Linked DNA regions of Homo sapiens: region 2 is linked to region 1. The links come from fine-mapping of genetic effects on gene expression. A gene starts in region 1. The other region holds a variant in brackets. All regions are shown on one strand. Distances are between the middles of the regions. Region 1 holds the start of LINC02631 (long intergenic non-protein coding RNA 2631). Region 2 overlaps SPOPL (speckle type BTB/POZ protein like).

What was found. PIP is the estimated chance that this variant, and not a neighbour inherited with it, causes the effect.
Region 2: its variant is fine-mapped to the expression of LINC02631 in whole blood (TOPMed, PIP 0.98).

Annotation. Positions count from the first base shown.
Region 1 is chr2:138,599,111-138,604,502 of GRCh38, forward strand. LINC02631 (long intergenic non-protein coding RNA 2631) reads left to right here and starts at 2,489. Exons shown (of 3, transcript NR_174959.1): 1 at 2,489-3,331; 2 at 4,954-5,392. LOC124905958 (a long non-coding RNA gene) reads right to left here and starts at 2,200. Exons shown (of 3, transcript XR_007088680.1): 1 at 2,121-2,200; 2 at 1,631-1,705.
Region 2 is chr2:138,532,910-138,538,301 of GRCh38, forward strand. The region is part of intron 1 of SPOPL (speckle type BTB/POZ protein like); the gene reads left to right. Among named protein-coding and RNA genes, the nearest start is that of SPOPL, 34 kb to the left of the region's middle. The variant T/C (reference allele first, on the strand shown) is at 3,131.

The DNA.
Region 1 (5,392 bases):
GAAAGAATAGTTATTTGTGGAGATTTGCGGGCTTAGTCACTGCCAACTTTGGAAACAGACACTAATTTGGAGTTTGAGGAGGATTTGGGTGGCAGGAGCACTTGATAAGAGAAAAGGCAACTTAATTAATTTATCCAGTCTTCCCTCTCTGATATCATGAGTGCTCTAGATTTTTGTCTAACAAAGTATCTTTTCATAGTAGTGTTCAGCATCCATTTTCTTATTTCTCTTTGTGTTCTAATTTGTGATTCAGGAAGGACCCATGAATTAACACTGTGCTACAGCACACATGGTAACTGAGGAACATTTTGTAATATATAATAATCCAATAAGTGTATAAATACACACATATATAAATATATAATATATAATACATATATACATTATATATAATAATATGCACAATATATATTATATATCTATATAATGCCAGAAATTTGATATCACCTCTTTACATTAGCAACCAAAAGGACATTGAAAGCTAGAATTCTCAAGTTTTAATTTTATACGAAAAGTAATAAAAATCAATAAAACACAAATATTAAAAACAGCTTTTCTTTGCTTTTTAAATGTTTTATGTTTTTAATGGACAAATAATAATTGTACATATTCCTGGGGTATGTAGTGATGTTTCAATACATGTAATGCAGAGTGATCAGAACAGGGTAATTAATTAGCATATTCATCATCTCAATCATTTATCATTTCTTTATGTTGGGAATGTTCGATGTTTTCCTTCTAGCTATTTGAAACTATAAATTTTTAGCTATAATCATCCTACAGTACTATAGAACACTAGAACTTATTTTTCCTATCTGGCTATAATTTTGTATTCTTTAACAGATCTCTCTTTCAAAATAAAAGTTAATCAATGACAAGCCTCCGAAAATGGTGCTAACATGGCTGATAAAGGAAAAGGTGCACAAGCCAAGAGTTTGCTCCAAATCTATCTTTGTACTTGGCACTCTTTTGTGTAATTCCTTTGTGCTTATTACTAGGAGGCATGGCCTTTACTGTGCCCTTATCCATGACATTATTGGGAATAGTACATAGATTATATGTAATATTTTCTGGTTCTTTTAAAATATGAAATGTTTTGATTAAACCTTACAGCATCTCTTGGACACATAAAGAAATACAAGTTGCACCAAGAGAGTTAAGCAAAAGATGCTCAAAAAGAAAATTGTAGTCATCACAGAAAATCAAAGTAATTTATAATTAGAATAAATTTTATAATTAGTATAATTTGTGCACAGTTATTTGGTATAAATGGATGGGTGCTATTAATAATGCTAGAAAAAGTTTACAAAACCCTAAACAAATCTAGTCTTCTTTTACTTTTAAAAGATTTAACACACACACATATTATATGTATATAACATATCATAGTATTTTAATTATGAAATGTATTTTTATAAGTAATAGAAACTACATGTGAGTTACCCAATAAAAATGACATATCAATAAAATATAAGAAAATTTGAAGTTGGAAACAAAAATGACTCTAAGGAGAAACAAATAATATGTGCAAATAATCCTGAAACTAATTTTTTGTATTTTTAGTAGAGATGGGGTTTCACCATGTTGGCCAGGCTGGTCTCGAACTCCCGACCTCAGGTGATCCACCCACCTCAGCCTCCCAAAGTCCTGGGATTACAGGCGTGAGCCATCGCCCCCAGCAACAACAACATAATTAGTACATTTTCTGAAATAAAGGAAAGACAGTAAATTCTGTGAAATAAATATATAATAATTTATGAATTTTGTATGTCTTTATTACTCATCCTAACATCATCAGCCTTTCAACAGAATACCCAGACAGACCATCTGATATTTTGCCAACTTTCAGTTAAATAAAAACCACAGCTTTCTAATACCTATAAAAATTTTGTAGTAATGAAGGTGTATTTGTCAAAATAGGAGAACAGAACATATTTGGCTTAACAATTTGTAGCATGAAATATAACTTTGAAATAATTGGACATATGCTTCTTGGGTCTCCATTTATGTTCTTATCCGGAGCCCTGAAAATTTTAGGGGTGGGCTGATGTGTTATACTTACACAGGTGACCCTTCTACCCATACAAGGAGCAAATAATCATAAGTGTTGCTGGTCTTACCACAGGGAAAGTAAAGCATCCTGCTGGAGTGAGGAGTGAGGCATTGCTGGTTTTCTACAGAAGCACTGGAGCATTTCAAGCCCTTGGGCTTGATTCATGACATTCTTTCTGTCTAAGTGACTATAGAGGAGGAAAATACCCTCTCCCCCACATTCATCCAGACACTTCCTATTCCCTCTTCATGTGCCAGTGTTGTGGTGTGAATTGTGTTCCCTAAAAAGATATGTTAAAATTCTAACTCCCTGTGCCAGTAAATGTGATCTTATTTGGAGATACGGACTTTGCAGATCTAATCAAGTTAAGATGAGGTCATACTAGAGTGGGGTGGGTCCAAAATCCAATAATTGGTGACATCATAAGAAGACTGTGAGAAACACACAGAGACCCAGGGAAGAGGCCATGTGAATGAAGATGGAGGCAGAGACTGAATTTAGGTTCCCACAAACCAAGGAATGCCAGAAACCACCAAAAGCTGGAAGAGGAAAAGGAGGATTCTTCCTTACAGACTTCAGAGAGAGCATGGCCCTGAAAACACATTGATTTCAGACTTTCAGCCTCCAGAATCATGAGAGAAAAAATGTCTGTTGTTTTAAGTCACAGCAGCTGTAAGAAACCAGTACAAGTATCACTGTGTTTTAAGCCTGTGGGCCTGACTCATGAGTGTCTATCAGAAATGCCCTCTCCTCTATATTCACTTAGATGTTTCATATTTCTCCTTTGCATGTCATTCATGGCTTTCAGGAAGACTTTTTTGGCAGCCCAGGGCAGGTCTGGCTTTATGCTACCAGCAGCCCAGGGCAGGTCTAGCTTTATGCTGTCAGATGGAGTGGGCTATAAGTAGAATGTGACCAGGCTGATGGTGATGCTGCTGCTTCTAGCCTGGCATCATACTGGTTTTCCTCTGCAGTTGAGAAGAGTCATGTGCAAGCTCGTGGCAGCAGCAAGTCCTCCTAATATGTCCCTGGTATCAAACTAACTCATTAGACTGTGGTAGCTGTGGTTGACTCCTGGTTTCTCCCAACTCCACCCTTTTGGCAGGCAGCAACCCTGGCCAGCAGCTGCTCATGGTCTAGGAAGGACAGCTGTCTTAACACCCATTCATCTGTAGAGAGCAGCCTTTTGGATCAGCGGATGGCTCCACCAGATGCTCAGCTTGTTTTCAGTTCTGGAGTCTGAAATCCCCAGTGCCATCTACCTGGCATCAGTCTCAGGTGCAGCATTTTCATAAGGACCCTGATGTCAGCAGCTGCTTGTGTGGGTAACACTAGGTGAAATCATCCACTTATGTTCTCAGGTTAAGAGTTGATTAGGCCAATTGTATCCAGATCATTTTCCCTTATGAACAATGGCAGCTGCATGGCACATTTTTCAAAAATTTAGTCTAAAATACATGAAAAATATACTGTTTTCCTTTTTCTTGGAAATGGGAAAATAGATTTGGACTCAGTTCCTGAATTATATTTTCTCTCTCCCTGGGTTTCAATAGCAAGCCTAATGTAACTGTGTGTAAAAAGAAGTATTTTAATTTGGAGGGAAGGAGTTTGCCCTCACCACAAATCAACATTCTTTTCTCTATAAAACACTTGAGCTTGCATATGCAAATGAACCCCATGTAGGCATAATAATTAGTCATTCTTTCACAAAGAAATAATTGATGAACATTGTGGTATATGACAGACAGCATTAAGATACGTCAAGATTCTTTTGGATCTCTCAGCTTGTCAAAAAGCAGATGTCGATTTTGTGGCCTTGCTGGTAAAACATTGGACTCTTTCTCTTGGTGCACAATTTAGTCACCTTCTATAATTTGCTTTGAAATGAACAAGATCTGGCATAATATATCTTCTATTTAATGAGCAATATTACAAACAAGATTAAAAGAAATGGCTATGAAGCTATTGTCTTTGCAAATTGAATTTGGCAAGAGACGACTACAGACAAGTAATGAACTTTCTAGATACGTCACAGGGACAGATCATCATACTCCAGAATGGCATAGCTTTCTTTACAAACTTTAGTAAATGTATGGGAGAGCTTGTCATTCAAATACTAACAATTACAGAGATTCTAGGATGAATTCCAATAAGCTCATGTGGTTTAATTTTAGATGCAAACAGAAAGAAATCATTATTCACATAATTTTTGTTGTTAACCTTTTGGAGTAAAGTTGACAGAGTTGGAAAATCTGTACATTTAAAAAGTGTTACTGTTTATGATTACTGCGTTAGTCTGTTTGGACTGTTATAACAAAAATATCCTGGATGGGGTTGCTTTAACAACAAACATTTATTTTCCACGGTTCTGGAGGCTGGGAGGTCCAAGATTGAGGTGCCTGCAGATTCTGTGTATGGTGAGGGCCTGCTTTCCAGTTCACAGACAGCCATATTCTCACTGTGTTCTCACAGGGTTGAAGGGCAAGGGGCCTCTCGAGAGTCTCTTTTTACAAACTGTGCTTATCCCATTTATGAGGGCCTCACCTTCATGACCTAATCACTTCCAAAAGCCCTACCTCTAAATACCATCACATTGGGGATTAGGTTTCAACACATCAATTTTGGGGGAGCCATAGAGATTCAGTCCATAGCAACTACTAATGTTAATAATAGCAGTTACCATTTACTGAGTAGTTACATATGGTAGCCACTCTATTTAGTGCTTTCCATTTAATCCTCACTGCCATAGAAAAGAGATAAGTAACATTGTTATTCCCATTTTCAAATTAGCAATGTGAGTGTTTTAACCATAAACTTGTCCGAGATCAAGAGTTAGAAAAGAGAAGAGTCAGAATTCCACGTGTGCCCCATGACTTGAGATTCTGCACTTTTATTTGCAGGGTGAAACATCTCACAGTGGAAGAGGAGCATTCTGTGTTGAGAATTTCCATTGACGAAGCCAACTGAGTGGCCTGATTCCCTTGGACCAGCAATCTAGAGCTAGGGAAGATGTTGCCCCAAGGAAGAGGCACAGCAGACACTTGGCTCTCCTCTTGGGTTTCTGCTTTCTCTGAGAAAACAGAAGTTTGAGGCCTCTAGAAGCACTGCATTCCCTCCAAAGGGAGGTTGTAGATACATTAATTAATATGATTTTAATTCAAAACTTCCTGAGGCAGATAATTCTAAATGATTATCCCAAAAATATTTCCAACACCCTTCTTTTTACCACCCACTGGCCCCCAAATCCTCAATTTTCCAGTCTCCCTTGAGCTAAGTGTGGCCCTATGACTCACTTCCAGCCATGAAAACAAGTGCAAATCTGTTAGGAGTATGTTCTGG
Region 2 (5,392 bases), 66 kb before region 1:
GTTTACCTGCTAGTTACTCCATTATCCCCAGAAGCAGAACATCCCATGGTAGCCTCTAAGTACTTTTTATATACATTAATTGTTTTGATCATTACCAGGCTTATCTCCCCTGCCCATCTGTACCATCAACTGTCACCAGTAAAGTTTTACTTACTGTTTCTACTCCAGTACTCACTTTGTGCTAAGGGTGTGTATATGTATAAAATTTCCTATTATCCACTCAGCAACCATAGGGCAATGAGGTGCTATAATAATTTAATAAACAAAGGAGAGGCCCAGTATCTATAAGATCACAGAATTCATGGCAAAGCACTGATTCACATTGGTCTCAGTATATAGCTCTTGTTATTAAAGTCTATGCTATTGTTTGTGGTCTTTCTATAATCTTGTTTGCTTCCTATAGAATACAGCTCAGGGAATATCTTCAGGACATTTTCTGTGTCCTGAAGTGCTTCATTATCACTGTTACAGTACTCTCTCATATTATCATATTCAAAATATCTCCGTGTCTGTATCCTCTACTATGTTATAGTTTTTGCCAAGAGTAGGGAATGTGTTTTATTTATCTTCATACCCCAGGTTTCGTTAGAGTGCATGATATATCTAAGCATATAATAAATGTTCATTGTATTTCCCTAAAGTCATCGTATACTTAATTTGAATAGATTTAAGAAATTTATATGTGTATTACTATTTTATCACCTTTATAAACACTTATTAGAATCTTAATTATTCTCCCTGGTACAGTCTTAGCAAAACTGTTGAACATTATATGTTATATATTATATTAACTCTTTTTCATCATATATATAAAGTTGTTTTGACCTCAGGCAGTATTTTGTTATAACATCCTGAAGCAGTTCAGAGGACTTTTAGCATAAATATGGTAGTATTTCAAAATTGTAATTTACCATTTGTTAATTGTAGAATTAATAAACAAAAATACTGTATGTATAATTAAACCACAATTGATTAAGCTACCTCCTAGAAGATGAATGAGCTGATTGCAGATGACAATGAAAGACGTAGCTCATAAACATCAGTCTCATTTTATAACTGGATAAAATTTTGATAATGCTCTTTAGACAGCATGATTTTTTTTAACCCTACTTTGCTGGATAATTTATATATTTTATTGGTCTAGAAGCTTGATAGCTAACACACTTGATATACTGCAAAATTGAAGACATTTTTTAAAGAAACAATAGTTTTTCCTTTGGGTGATTAAAAATAACGATTAGTACTTTATTCTCTAATAGTGGCTAATATAGACTCAATAGTTATAGAAGGTGTTTTATAGAGTTGACCCTCTGTATCCACCGATTCTGCATCTGAGGATTCAACCAACTGTGGATCAAAAATATATGGGAAAAAAAATTAACAATACAACAATTTAAAAAATCTAATAAAACAGCACAGTATAACAACTATTTACATAGCATTTACATTGTATTAGGTGTTAAGTAATCTAGAGATGATCTAAAGATACCAGAGGATATGTGTATATCAAATGCAGATATTATACCATTTTGTATAAGGGACTGGAACATCTGTGAATTTTGGTATCCATGGGAGTCCTGGAATCAGTCTCCCATGGAAACAAAGGGACAACTTTGATTACTTTTTAATCACAAAAGAAATGTGTATATATGTGCATATGGACTTCTATGTGCAGGTATTTTTTTTAAATGAGGCAAAATTCATATAACATAAAATCTATCATTTTTACTTTTTTAAAAAGTACAGTTCCGTAATGGCTTAGTACATTGACAGTGTTGTGCAACTAGCACCTCTGTCTAGTTCCAGAACACTTTTATCAGTCCCAGAGGAAACTCCATAACCAATTACTTACCATTTCCCCCTCCCCACAGGTCTGGCAACTACTAATCTGCTTTTTGTATGTATGGATCTGCCCAATATTTAAAACAAGTGAAATGATACAATGTGGCCTTTTGTGCCTATCTTCTTTCACTTAGCATAATGTTTTCAAGATTCATTCATGTTGTAACATGCATCAATACTTTATTTATTTTTATGACTACATATTATTTCATTGTGTGACCAGGCTTAATGGCTCACACCTGTAATCTCAGCACTTTGGGAGGCTGAGCTGGAAGGATCTCTTGAGCCCAGGAGTTCAGGACCAAACTGAGCAACAGTGAGATCTTGTGTCTATAAGAAATAAAATTACCCAGGTGTGGGCAGTGAGCTGTGATTGCATCACTGTATTTCAGCCTGAGTGGCAGAGCAAGACACTGTTTAAAAAAAGGAAAATTCATTGTGTACATGTACCACATTTTAAAAATTCATTTATTGCTTGATGAACATTTGGATTGTCCATCAATGAATGGATTATTAGCTAGTAACCTTTTGGCTATTGTGAATACTGCAGCAAAGAACATTTATGTTTCAGTCATTTGAACACCTGTTTCCAGTTCTTTTGGATATATACCTAGGAGTAGAATAGCTGGATCATGTGGTAATTCTATGTTTAATTTTTTGAGGAATCCTTAAACTGTTTTCCACAGCGGTTAAACCATTATACATCTCCACAAGCAATGTCCAAGGATTCCAGTTTCTCTACATCCTCGTCAATGCAGGTGATTCCCCACTCCTTTTTTTTTTTTTAATAGCCATTCTAGTAGCTTTTTTTTTTTTTTTTTTGGTCTTTTTCAGCATTTTTACTGTGATCCATGTGTTTGTGGGTTTCTTTGCATTTAACCTACTTGGAGTTGATTGAGCTCCTTAAATGTGTATATTATTGCTTTTCAATAAATTTGAGAAGTTTTCAGCCATTTTTTTTAGTTATCTTTTTCTGCTGCTTCTGTCTTTCTTCTCCTTCTGATACTCCCATTATATACATGTCAGTGTGCTTAAAATAATGTCCTACAGTTCTCTGAAGATGTTCATTTTTCTTCATATTTTTCTGTCTGGATTGTATAATCTCTACTGATTTGTCTGTAAGTTCACTAATTCTTCTATTTGTTCATATCTACTGTTGACCTCCTCTAGTGAATTTTCATTTCAGTTATATGGTTCAGCTCCAGAATTTTTATTTGGTTCTTTTAAAAAAAATAACCTTTACCTTTTTGTTGACATTCTTTATTTTTTTTGTGTGACATTGTCATCA[T/C]ACCTTCCTCTAATTATGATTTCCTTTAGTTCTTTACACATACTTATTAATGGCTATTTGGAATGCTTTGTCTGTTAAATCCAACATGTAAGTTTAATCACAGTTTCTGTTATCTGTTTTTTTCCCCAGCATATGGGTCATACTTTCTGTTTTTTCATGCCTCGTAATTTTCTATTCAAAGCTGGATATTTTATGTAGTAAATTGAGAAATTCTTGGAACTGGTTTCTTCCTTCCAGTGCATGCTGTTGCTTCTTGCTTATTTTGTTTATGGACTGTTTTAGTGGAGTCTATTTAGTGCCCCCCCCCCACACACACACACACGCACACAGTGTTAAGCCTCTGATGTTGCACCTCTGGGGAAGCAGCCTTGGGTATTCCCAGTTACCCTGGGTGATGGTGGTTTGGCAGGGCTTTCTTTTTGCCTGACTACTCACATCTGTTAAGGTCCATTAATCTAGTGCTAATTGCACTGTTTTCAACAATGCCCTGGGGCATTATGTTGTTCTGCAGACTCATCAACTTTGGTTTCCTTTGAAGAAATAGTTCCCTAAGTCAGTGCCTGAAATTTCTTCCGAATCCAGGTGGGCTCCTCTCAGCTGTGTCTTTTCCTGTTTTTTTTTGGGCAAATCAGCTGTCCTGTAGTTTAGCCTTTGTATCCATTGATTCCTCCAGTCTCTTCTCATTTGCCTCTCACAGCCTCTACTGTTTTTCAGATCATGCTTGCCTGTTTCCTTGCAAATGAACTTCTTTTCTCTGGGAAGAGATTAAAAGCAGTCTGCTTTATGGTCCACTTCTTTCCACAGGCAAACATCTCCAAGCCCAGGCTCTGGAGTAAGGAGGAAGGAACAATGGTATTTCTTTCCCAGTGTATCTCTACTGTAGGAGCTGTGCTGGAGGGAGGCAGTAGCCTCAGTTCTTCTTATCTTCACGCTCTTTGTATGGAACCCACAGTTTACAAGCCAAGACAGCAGTGATTGGTACCCTGACAGCACCATGCCCAAAGTAGAGCCTCCACCTTTCCGGCAGTGACAGATTTGAAGAAGGGAGCCAGCCCCTTACCTCTTGGTTTCATTCACCTGTAACATCAGCATTAAGTAGCTAGAGGTGTAGCAGCATGAGCCAAACAAACAAACAAAACCCCTCAGACACCGAGTTGAGGAAGGAAAGGACTTTATTCGGCTGGGAGCATCGGCAGACTTACATCTCAAACAACCGAGCTCCCTGAGTGAGCAATTTCTGTCCCTTTTAAGGGCTTATGACTCTTAAGGGTGTCCACGTGAGAGGGTCATGATCGATTGAGCAAGCAGGGGATACATGATTGGGGGCTGCATGCACCGGTAATCAGAACGGAACAGAACAGTACGGGGATTTTCACAATGCTTTTCCATACAGTGTCTGGAATCTATAGATAACACAAGCAGTTCAGTCATGGGTTGATTTTTAACTACCAGGCCCAGGGCGTGGCATCGGGCTGTCTGCCTGTGGATTTCATTTCTGCCTTTTAGTTTTTACTTCTTTTTTCTTTGGAGGCAGAAATTGGGCACAAGACAATATGAAGGGTGGTCTTCTCCCTTAGAGGCAGGATGAGAAATGTTGACATCCTTCCTGTCACAGGAGGACATTGACTGGACCTGTTGGAAGAGGGAACACAGTGCTTATGGCTACACCAGTCTAGAGTGGAGTTTCTGACTCCTTGAGTTAGGACAGAGCAGCTCCTGGTTCAAAGACCACAGACTCTCACTTTTCTCATAGTCTCTACTAAATTTTCTTGAATAAATGTTTCTTCATTTGTTCTGTGCTTCCAGCAGTGTTTTTATATTTTTCACCAAATTTTCTGGGGAGTATGTCCATGGAACTCCTCAAGTTGTCACGCTGAAAGTTTTTTTCATTAGTGGTTCAGTCTCTGCTGGTTATGGGGGTCTGTTCACATTTTCGGTTTCCTCTTGAGTCAGTTTTGGTAGTTCCACATTTGTGAATTTTAAAATTTTTTCTTCTGTTACTGATTTATAGTTTCATTCAACTGCAATCAGAGAGGATACTTTGTATAATTTAAATTTTTTTAAATTCGTCGAGACTTGTTTTGTGGCCTCGGTAGCATATGGTCTGTCCTTGAGAACATTCCATATGCACTTGAGAAGAATGTGTGTTCCACTGTTGATGAGTGAAATGGCTGTTAGGTCTAGTTATTTTATACTGCTGTTCAAGTCTTCTATCTCTTTATTGATCTTCCTCGTTCTCTGCATCATTGAATGTTGGGTATT